3 linked regions of the Homo sapiens genome follow. The protein of the gene in region 1 purifies or fractionates together with the protein of each later gene. This does not show direct contact. Each region holds a gene or a part of one and is shown in the gene's direction. Other genes may lie near its edges. The genes, in order: STK33, GLUD1 and CAD.

What was found.
Region 2: the proteins of STK33 (region 1) and GLUD1 purify together in Homo sapiens (affinity purification with mass spectrometry; one large-scale study listed by BioGRID and IntAct). This does not show direct contact.
Region 3: the proteins of STK33 (region 1) and CAD purify together in Homo sapiens (affinity purification with mass spectrometry; one large-scale study listed by BioGRID and IntAct). This does not show direct contact.

What each region holds. Positions count from the first base shown.
Region 1 is NC_000011.10:8,475,724-8,479,376, reverse strand, and holds part of STK33 (serine/threonine-protein kinase 33), read left to right. Parts: exon of another isoform or gene 1-2,093; 5' UTR 2,094-2,127; exon of another isoform or gene 2,128-2,625; 5' UTR 2,626-2,690; intron 2,691-2,704; exon of another isoform or gene 2,705-3,277; intron 3,278-3,653. UniProt on the Homo sapiens protein: Serine/threonine protein kinase required for spermatid differentiation and male fertility. Promotes sperm flagella assembly during spermatogenesis by mediating phosphorylation of fibrous sheath proteins AKAP3 and AKAP4.
Region 2 is NC_000010.11:87,070,762-87,074,414, reverse strand, and holds part of GLUD1 (glutamate dehydrogenase 1, mitochondrial isoform a precursor), read left to right. Parts: intron 1-3,653. UniProt on the Homo sapiens protein: Mitochondrial glutamate dehydrogenase that catalyzes the conversion of L-glutamate into alpha-ketoglutarate. Plays a key role in glutamine anaplerosis by producing alpha-ketoglutarate, an important intermediate in the tricarboxylic acid cycle.
Region 3 is NC_000002.12:27,220,279-27,223,931, forward strand, and holds part of CAD (multifunctional protein CAD), read left to right. Parts: intron 1-939; coding exon 940-1,069; intron 1,070-1,915; coding exon 1,916-2,058; intron 2,059-2,240; coding exon 2,241-2,382; intron 2,383-2,587; coding exon 2,588-2,759; intron 2,760-3,284; coding exon 3,285-3,470; intron 3,471-3,638; coding exon 3,639-3,653. UniProt on the Homo sapiens protein: Multifunctional protein that encodes the first 3 enzymatic activities of the de novo pyrimidine pathway: carbamoylphosphate synthetase (CPSase; EC 6.3.5.5), aspartate transcarbamylase (ATCase; EC 2.1.3.2) and dihydroorotase (DHOase; EC 3.5.2.3).

The sequences.
Region 1 (3,653 bases):
ACTGCAATCTCCGCCTTCTGGGTTCAAGCGATTCTCCTGCCTCAGCCTCCCTAGTAGCCGGGATTACAGGTGCATGCCACCACACCCAGCTAATTTTTGTATTTTTAGTAGAGATGGGGTTTCTCTACTAAAACCCCAGGTTGGTCAGGATGTTGGCCAGGATGGTCTCGATCTGACCTTGTGATCCACCCGCCTCAGCCTGCCAAAGTGCTGGGATTACAGGCGTGAGCCACCGCACCCGGCCTCTGTTCTCGCTTTTAACTGTCAGTATAGGGGCCACATTTAAGACTGTCCTTCCGTATTACTGCTTAATCAGTGAGGAACATCATGCAAATTAAAATAGAAAGGAAAAGTTAATAGTAAACATCACTCAAACATTTAAAAAAATTCTGAAATAATGTGAATTTTAAATATACTGTAAATCCTTTTATAAGACAATACAGACTCATTTTCCTAATCATGCCCTTAATGAAAAGAATAAACAAGTGCTAGTCTTCCTTAAAATATAGCAATATCATCTAGAAAACTCACTGGGCCCTTCTTTAGGCTTTGTAAACATGTTACTAAAGCAGTCAGTCATTTGGCTTGGTCTGCAGAATGTCAGACAATTCGTAAGTTTTTTTTTTTTTCCCCTTTACTTGAATAAAACACATTTTGACTGAATTGACTATTTAGGTTTCTTGTAGACACAGTCTTAGCAAAGAAAACTAAAAAAATTGCTTTTGGAGAAGAAAATTATAGCTAGTTATATCTTATAAAACCATTCTTGTGTTCATTTTCTTGAGGAAATTGCTGTAAGTGTATCTTCTAGGGCCAATATGTAAAAGACCTTTTTATGATTAAATTAAAGCCCAGGGATTTTCATTATCAGAATTGTTTTATTGACTTGCCTTAGTTCTAAAAATAAAATGAAAACCTTAAGCCAAAGGAAGGCTCATGTATTAGTTAAGTACTGACATAATTTGAACTTATTTTATTTGCTTATATTATGTCCAGTACCTATGTATGTCCAATCTTTGGAGACACAAAGAAACATTATTGTATTAGAAGATTCTTTGGTTTTTGTAATACATATTTTTATATCTAAAGTCCTGTTTAAACATAATTCCATGATTCTATAGAAAAAGAGCTATTAATCTTTGTGTTTACATAAGTTTGCAATACTTGATTAATTTTAAGCCTCTAAAATATGAGTGACATCATTTGTCCTGTGAAATAGTAGATTTGTTTTAGTAACAAATCTTTCAGATCAATTCGTAAATGAGAAAGAAATAAATGTGAGTAAACATTTGTTCTATCTTGGTTTTTGTTTAAACTAAAATAATTAGAATTCAGCCAGCCAAAAAGAAGTTAAATTTGAAATCTAATTCTTGTCAAGAAATTTTGCATGCAGCTATTCAACCTGTTGTTTTAGAATTGCTGTGGTAAGAAAGTAGAACATTATTTTGGCAAATATAGCACTTGGTAGACTGGAGAGCAAAAATGAAACTTCTCAGTGAGTAATAGAAAGAAATCCTATGCTTTATGCATATAGCTACCAAGTACTTCTAAGGCAACTGATAAATTAGAAGACTGGAGCGAGAAAGTACTCAGAAGTCTGTGACAATGTCAGTGATATGATAATGACTTATTGAAAAATTGATGAAAATTAAAGGAAATGCTTTCTGAACAAAGCTAAGAAAAGAATAGCTGTTTTTAGATCCCCCAAAATCTATCTTAAAATGAAAATTTTAATATTTAAAGATTCCATTGAAAATTTGTGAATATATATATTTGTAAACCTTGAAGGATATGGTAAGTATGCTTTTAGGAGTACTGTTTATCATGAAAGAACTCAGCTGCAGTTAAATAAACCTGTACGTTACGAATACTTCTTACAATTTCTTATAAAAAGTACCATAAAATCAATATTCTTAATGTATGCAAAAAATGATGTTTTACACATCTGACATGGGACTTCTCTACACCTCAGAGAGAAAGCACTATTTTTCCCAAACAGAAAGCCTATCATTTGCAGATCTACTCCACTGCTCTGAGTCATTGATGGTTATGGGTTTTATATTTAACCTGAAATGCAAAACATTTTCTTCTAGGCCTGAAGTTAAATCATTTTGGAAAGTGATACAGGTACATTCTGAATTTTCTTTGTCTTGCTACATATTCTTGAAAAACCAGGTTAAGTGTTTATAAGAGATGTGTATGTGTGTGTGTGTGTGTGTGTGTGTGTGTGTGTGTGTATTTTGAGTGGCATCAGTTGCATTCTTTTCTTCCTCTGCCTGTCTGGAGGGCACTTTTAATGTACCTGTCCTCATACTCTCCATTATGAGTTTTAATCACAATAGAAATTTTTTTCCCACCACTTTGATGAAAGGTCATATTTATTGGGCAGACTTATCTATTCTATTTAATAATCTTATAATATACTATATACATTACCTGGGGTAAATGTAAGTACAGCATTTAGGATTTTAAAATCTATTTACAAATGAGACTGACCTGTAAATCCCCCTTTTGGGGAATACTACTATGGTCAGATTTTGGTTATTTTAAGTGAATAAAATGAACCGGATGGCTTTGCATGCTCTGAAACCATTTATATAAGAATCATCTGTTCAATAAAAGTAGGAGAGGACTCTGCTATGAAACTTCCTGAGTGAAATGATAAGTGGCATGAAGAAAAACAAAGCAAGGTAAGGGGGGAGAGGGCATGGGCTTGTTGTTTTAGATGAGGTGGTTAGGAAAGCCTTTCAAATGAGCAGAAGCCACAGTGAAGCATGGGAGCAGACCGTGTGAATGTTTGAGGGAAGAGCATCCCAGGCAGAGGAAGCAGAAGGGCAAAGCCTTGAGAAGGGAGTATACTTGGCATATTAGAGGAGCAGCAAGAGGCTACTGTATCTGAGAGAAAGGAGATATGAAAGCTGAGAGGTAGTGAAGAGTACGTTTATTTGGGACCGTATAGGCAAAATTCAACAAAATTTCTTTGTCATTTCTGTTTCTTAAGCTTACTCTTTAATTATGTTTTTCTATCTTTTAGATTTGACTGCACACTTAGTATATTTTTATCCTTTCTCCTCTGATTTTAATAAAGGTTTAAGAATATAAATTTTCTTTTAAGTGCAGCTTTGCCTGCATTCTGTTAAGCTTAATGGCCATAAGTCACATGGCTACCCCTAATCTAAAAGAGAAGCCCGGAAATGTAGGATGTTAATGAGCACATTGCTGCCCCAAAGAAGATCAGGATTCTGTTAGTAAGAAAGAATGAGAGGACAACTTTTAGGTAAACTACTAGCAATATCTTTTATAAAATCGTATGAGCCTGGCAGATTTTCCTGCCAATCACAATAGATAAGGATTTGATAAAAGCACAGCTTTCTGATTAGAAAACCAGGTATTTCTTTAATGAAATAAATATATTTAATTTCCTATTCTAGTCAAGTTTATTCCAGTTCAAAGGATAACAGTATATTGCATATATCCCCAGGTTTATCAATCTATGACTACAGAATCTACTTTTAAAGACTGTCTGAAATGGTATAGCATAAAACCATAATAATGTACTCCCAATTACTTCTGGAAGTTTCTCAAAGTACTCCTTTATATGTACTGCAGAGTGTATTTTTCTTCCTCCTCAACTGAGATCTTTCCAACTTGCC
Region 2 (3,653 bases), on another chromosome or scaffold:
ATTCTCTTGTCTCAGCCTCCCAAGTAGCTGAGATTACAGGCATGTGCCACCACACCCAGCTGATTTTTGTATTTTTACTGGAGATGGGGCTTTGCCATGTTGGTCAGGCTGGGCTTGAACTCCTGACATCAGGTGATCCACCCATCTCGGACTCCCAAACTGCTGGTATTACAGATAGGAGCCACTGTGCCCGGCCTCCTACTATTTGTTATAGGAGCTTTTGCCAAACATACAACATTTCTGAAGATATTAATCTTTGTTTGCTTGATGTTTTTGTATCTTACTATTATCTGTGTTTATATTTTCTTTGTGCACAATCTGAATATTCTTTTTATGATATGTAAGTATTTGTCATGTACCCTTTAATTTTCAAGCAGTTTAAACCTATATTTTTTTTAATCTAGAAGGCTTCTAATTTGTTTGAATAGAATATGCATAACTACTTAATAGAATGCTTGCCCTATCAGTATAGTTAATAGAATGTTAATACTTACTGCCGAGCGTGGTGGCTCACACCTGTAATCCCAGCACTTTGAGAGGCCGAGGCAGGTGGATCACGAGGTCAGATCGAGACCATTCTGGCTAACGGGGTTTAGTAGGAATCCCATCTCTACTAAAAACACAAAAAATTTGCCAGGCGTGGTCGCGAGTGCCTGTAGTCCCAGCTACTCAGGAGGCTGAGACAGGAGAATGGTGTGAACCTGGGAAGCAGAGCTTCCAGTGAGCCAAGATCACGCCACTACACCCCAGCCTGGGCAACAGAGCGAGACTCCGTCTCAAAAAAAAAAAAAAAAAAAAAAAAAAGAATGTTAATTGTTACTTAATAATAGAATACTTGTCCTATCAATATCAGTATAGTTAAACAAAATAAGGTCTACTTAAATAGAAAATAAAGTGTATTTTTCTCTACTTTCCTTTCTTAGCATTTCCCCCACAAGTTCCCATGAAATTAAACTATAAAGGCTGGGCATGGTGGCTGGTGCTTGTAATCCCAGCATTTTTGGAGGCTGAGGTGGGAGGATCACTTGAGCCCAGAAGTTCGAGACCACCCTGGGCAATATTACAAGACCCCATCTCTACAAAAAATGAAAACATTATCCAAGCGTGATGGTGCATGCCTGTGGTCCCAACTACTAAGATGGGAGGATCCCTTAAGCCTGGGGGGTTGAGGCTGCAGTGAGCTATGATTGTGCCACTGCACTCTGGCCTGCCACACTCTGGCCTGAGCAACAAAACGAGACCACATCTCAAGAAGAAAGAGAAATGAAATAAAGCTATTCGGATTCATTTTTAGGAAAAAAAAGTCATGAAATAAATGTCATGAAATAACCTAATATAGAAATACAGTAAGTATAGGTAACTCTAAAACTTGACTAGATTTGGCCTGTCTTTGATAATAAAAGGCATTTGGGCCTTTGATGTGCCGCATACCCAGCACTACTGTGAACTTGTGCATCCTTACATGGAGTCTGTTAACGTAAGTTAATATGAGTTAACTATCTCGCTCACACTTTTATAGGAGTGCCTACTGATTCTGAGATATGGTGAATTGAAGTCATCTTCAGCCTGTTAATAGCCTTCATAATTTTTAAAAGGTCTTTCCTCTTCCCCTAAATCTCAAACACATTTTATAGTCTTGAATGGTTTCAGACTTTATTCAGTCATATTTGTCACCCATATCTGCAATATCTCCAGCTTAATTTTATCAGACTTGACAAGTACCTAATAATTCCAAAGGTCAAAAAGTGATTCATTGGAATACTGAAAGAAAACACAGCTTAAACTCTAGTAATTTGATTTATTTGCTTAATGTGCAAAAGCCTCATTGACCCAGGATGCAGTTAAATTGACGTCTTGGCCCAGAAAGCTTTGAAGCCTAGGAGGTAGGCAAAGGGAGTTTTTTCTCTCACTCCTCGGCAAACCTTCAAATTTGATGTTATTTATCTGTTATTTCCTGACTGCCCATTCCACAGAGAGTGTCAGATTGAGGCTCAGACCTGAGCCTGAACCCTGATCCTGTCACATGTGTGTTTAGCATCAGCTTGTAAATTTCTGCAAAACAAAAGAAAAAAAGAGGCTGGGATTTTTATAGGAATTTCATTGAATCTGTACACTAATTTGTGGAGTATTGCCATCTTCCCCACCCTCCCCAAAAAGGTTTTGTCCTTTCACCCAGGCTGGAGTACCAGACAGCAGTCACTGCAACCTTGACCTCCTGGGCTCAAGCAATCCTCTCACCTCACCCTCCCAAGTAGCTAGAACCACAGGGGTGTGCAACTGTGCCTAGCTAATTTTTTAATTTTTTGTGGAGACACGGTCTCATCACGTATCCCAGACTGGTCTCAAACTCCTGAGCTCAAGCAGTCTTCCCACCTCAGCTTCCCAAAATTCTGGGATTATAGGCATGAGCCACTGCACCTGACCAGTATTGCCATCTTAACCATATTAAGCCTTCCAATGCTGAATATGAGATGTCTTTCCATTTATTTAGGTCTCTTGATTTCTTTCAATGATGTTTTGTAGTTCTCATTGTAGAAGTCTTACATAGAAGTCTTACAACTAAATATTTTACTCCTTTTAATGCTATTGTAAGTGACATTGGTCTATAGTTTTCTTATGATGTCTTTGTCTAGTCTTTGTATCAGGACAATTCTAGCCTCATGGAATGAGTTGAGGAGTGTTCCTTCCTCTTCTGCTTTTGGAAAAGCTTTTGAAAGGTCAATGTTCATTCTCTTGTGTGAGTGTAAATATCACCTAAGTTCTGCAGGACCCTGATGTCTCCACCCTTCTCATCCCCTTATATCTCTGTGTACCAAAATTACCCTTTCATCTCCTACTCTATAGTCACATGCTGTTAGAAAAGTTGCTTTTTTAAAAAAGATTAACTTCTGCCTCATACCTGTTCTCTATATAAGAATTTATCTGTTAGGCCAAGCATGGTGGCTCATGCCTGTAATCCCAGCACTTTGGGAGGCTGAGGCGGGTGGATCACCTGAGGTCAGGAGTTCGAGACCAGCCTGGCCAACATGGTAAAACCCCGTCTCTACTAAAAATAAAAAAAAATTAGCCAGGCAGGTACCTGTAATCCCAGCTACTCAGGAGGCTGAGGCAGGAGAATTGCTTGAACCTGGAAGGCGGAGGTTGCAGTGAGCCGAGATCATGCCATTGTACTCCAGCCTGGGCAGCAAGAGTGTAACTCCTTCTCAAAACATAAAAATTAAAAAAAAACAAAAAGAATATATCTGTTATTCAGGAACTACTTGTTTTTTGTTTTTGTTTTTGTTTTGAGACAGAGTCTTGCTGTGTCACCCAGGCTGGAGTGTAGTGGCACGATCTCAGCTCACTGCAAGCTCCGCCTCCCGGGTTCACGCCATTCTCCTGCCTCAGCCTCCCAAGAAGCTGGGACTACAGGCGCCCGCCACCACGCCCGGCTAATTTTTTGTATTTTTAGTAGAGACAGGGTTTCACTGTGTTAGCCAGGATGGTCTCGATCTCCTGACCTTGTGATCCACTCACCTCGGCCTCCCAAAGTGCTAGGATTACAGGCATGAGCACCGCACCCGGCCTCAGGAACTACTTGTAATCTGTGCATCCCTATACATTAGTTTTGTATGGAGTAGAAAACTCATAAGCCTAATAACTAATACCTTGTG
Region 3 (3,653 bases), on another chromosome or scaffold:
GATGGAGGCACAAGCTGTATTGGGTGAGTGGGAGGGGCTTCACAGAGAAAGGATTTGTGATTTCAGTTTTAGATAAAGGAAGAAAGAGGCGGGGCGCGGTAGCTCATGACTTGTAATCCCAGCACTTTGGAAGGCTGAGGTGGGGGGATCGCTTGAGCCCAGGAAGTTTGAGAGCAGCCTGGCAACATGGTGAGACGCTGTCACTACAAAAAATTCAAAAAATTAGCCAGGTGTGATGATCCACACCTGTGGTCCCAACTACTCAGGAGTCTGAGGTGGGAGAATCACTTGAGCCCAGGAGATTGAGGCTGTAGTGAACCGTGTATTTGTGCCACTGTACTCTGCACTCCAGCCTGGATAACAGCAAGACCCTGTCTCAAAAAAAAAAAAAAGGAATGGCTAGGTGCGATGGCTCACTCCTGTAATCCCAGCACTTTGGGAGGCTGAGGTGGGCAGATCACAAGGTCAGGAGATCTGAGACCATCCTGGCTAACATGGTGAAACCCCGTCTCTACTAAAAATACAAAAAATTAGCCGGGTGTGGTGGCGGGCGCCTGTAGTCCCAGCTACTCGGGAGGCTAAAGCAAGAGAATTGCTTGAATCCGGGAGGCAGAGGTTGCAGTGAGCTTAGATGTCGCCACTGCATTGCAGCCTGGGTGACAGAGTGAGACTCTGTCTCAAAAAAAATAAATAATAAATAAATAAAAAGGAAAATGTCATTTTCAGTGATCATCGGGGCACCCTGGGCCTGTGGGTTGTGTTTCGTATAGGAGAGAGCGTTGTTGGTAAATGGAAATACCTATGCAAAAGCACCAAAAGTTTGGTATATTGAAGGCCATTCAATGTGGCTGAATATAGGGTCTGTGGCCACACAATCGGGAAAATGCTGCAAAGAAATAACTTGGCCTGAGGCTTCTCACAATCTCTTTCCATCTACAGTGGTTTGAATCCTCGGGCATCCACGTAGCAGCACTGGTAGTGGGAGAGTGCTGTCCTACTCCCAGCCACTGGAGTGCCACCCGCACCCTGCATGAGTGGCTGCAGCAGCATGGCATCCCTGGCTTGCAAGGTATGGTGGCAAGCAGGGGCATATTTGGGCAGAGCACAGCATGCCTGGATGGAAAGAATCAAGGTTTCTGTAATCTGCTGGGACCTGACTCTAAGATTGTGATAGTTGGAAGGTTTAGATTGGAGTTGGGCTGGGAGAAAGAATTGAACTATCACTCAGAAAGAAAATTTCCAACACAGGAAGGAACTCCCACCTTCCATAATCATCAGCTTAGGGCTAATCTTATTTCATCACCACCACTGGATTATTTTGATGCAAATCTCAGACATCATATCATTTCATCTACAAATAGTTCAATATCTATGCAAAAGGAATCTTTAAAAAACATGATCATAATAACGTCATACACTAAAAAAATTAATAATTCCCTAATACAAGTGTCCAGGCAATGTTTAAAATTTCCCAATTTTTTTTTTTTTTTTTTTTTTTTTTTCTGTTCATTTGAATCTTGCTCTAAACAGGGTTCACACATTGCATTTGGTTGATAAGTCTCTTAATCTGTGGACCTTGTAACCTATTTGAAAACAGGTCATTTTTCCTGTATCTAGTATCCCATAGTCTGCACTTACTTGGTTACACTCCTGTAGTGTTACTTAGCGTATTCTTTTTTTCCCTTTATATTATTTTCTATAAATGGATAGATTTAGAGTTGTTCAATTCAGATGTGATATTTTTGGCAGGAATACTTCATGGTAGTATACTTCTGTCACAATGGCCCAGGATTTTGATGCACATAGAACAGCTGTGTGTGACTGGGGCTCTGGAATGGAAGTGCTTCTGGAAGTCTAACCTCACAGATGACTGAGTTGTAGGAATGTGATCCCTAAGACTGTGCTATTTTGACAGGAGTAGACACTCGGGAGCTGACCAAGAAGTTGCGGGAACAGGGGTCTCTGCTGGGGAAGCTGGTCCAGAATGGAACAGAACCTTCATCCCTGCCATTCTTGGACCCCAATGCCCGCCCCCTGGTACCAGAGGTCTCCATTAAGGTACAGAGGTAGAGTGGGAGAGTGTTGCAAGCTCTAGCACAGTAGTTATATTCTGCCCACAATTGGGGGGTGAACACAGGAGAGAATCAAAGGAGGCTTTGAAGGTAGGAGTTGGTGCAGGCATATCTTATACCCACTGAGCACAGCTGCCAACTGTTGCCCTTTATTCGTCTATTTCTCAGACTCCACGGGTATTCAATACAGGGGGTGCCCCTCGGATCCTTGCTTTGGACTGTGGCCTCAAGTATAATCAGATCCGATGCCTCTGCCAGCGTGGGGCTGAGGTCACTGTGGTACCCTGGGACCATGCACTAGACAGCCAAGGTGAGTAGCTGGGGCCTGTTCAGGGCCTCAGACAAGCAGCTTGGGTGGAAGATCTATCCCTTGGTCCAATTGCTAAAAGTCAGTAGGAGTTGCAGTGAAGAAGATAGACATTGGGACTTAACACTCTCATGGGCTGGGGGGGCTGCAGGTGTGTCTCCTGTAATTGAAATACTGATTTTGATGTCATCTTTTCTGCCCACTCCAGAGTATGAGGGTCTCTTCTTAAGTAATGGGCCTGGTGACCCTGCCTCCTATCCCAGTGTCGTATCCACACTGAGCCGTGTTTTATCTGAGCCTAATCCCCGACCTGTCTTTGGGATCTGCCTGGGACACCAGCTATTGGCCTTAGCCATTGGGGCCAAGACTTACAAGATGAGGTGGGACTTGTGGGGAGCAGAAGGGGCCCATACTTGTGGCATGAGGGGTGGGGTGTCTCAGGAATGAGAAGAGAGTTGGTGTTTATTCGTGTTGAAATAGGAGCGGGGGGGTTGCAGGTGAGGTGGCTCCCACCTGTAATCCCAGCACTTTGGGAGGCCAAGGTGGGCGGATCACTGGAGGTCAGGAGTTCGAGACCAGCCTGGCCAACATGGTGAAACTCTGTCTCTACTAAAAATACAAAAGTTGGCCAGCCATGGTGGCGTGCGCCTGTAATCCCAGCTACTCCAGAGGCTGAGGCAGGAGAATCGCTTGAACCTGGGAGGTGGAGGTTGCAGTGAGCGGAGATCGTGCCATTGCCCTCCAGCCCGGGAAACAGAGGGAGACTCCGTCTCAAAAAAAAAAAAAAAACAAAAAGGAAACAGGAGTGAGGCTACTGAGAACAGGAGATCGGTGAGAGCTGGGGTAGGTTCAGTAGTGAAGAGAGGGTGAGCAGGGCCTGTGACTCGGCATGCTTCTACCTCCAGATATGGGAACCGAGGCCATAACCAGCCCTGCTTGTTGGTGGGCTCTGGGCGCTGCTTTCTGACATCCCAGAACCATGGGTTTGCTGTGGAGACAGACTCACTGCCAGCAGACTGGGCTCCTCTCTTCACCAACGCCAATGATGGTTCCAATGAAGGCATTGTGCACAACAGCTTGCCTTTCTTCAGGTGAGCCTGGTTGACTGGGTCTGTGAAAATTTGAAGCCCTGTGGGCCTTGATGATGGAAAAGTAAAGCACGGCAGTGGATCCGAGTCCCCTGTCCCACTACCCACCTCGAGGCTGCCAGTGTCATGCCAGGGACCATGATGGTTTTCATGATGCAATCTCTTCAATAGTGTCCAGTTTCACCC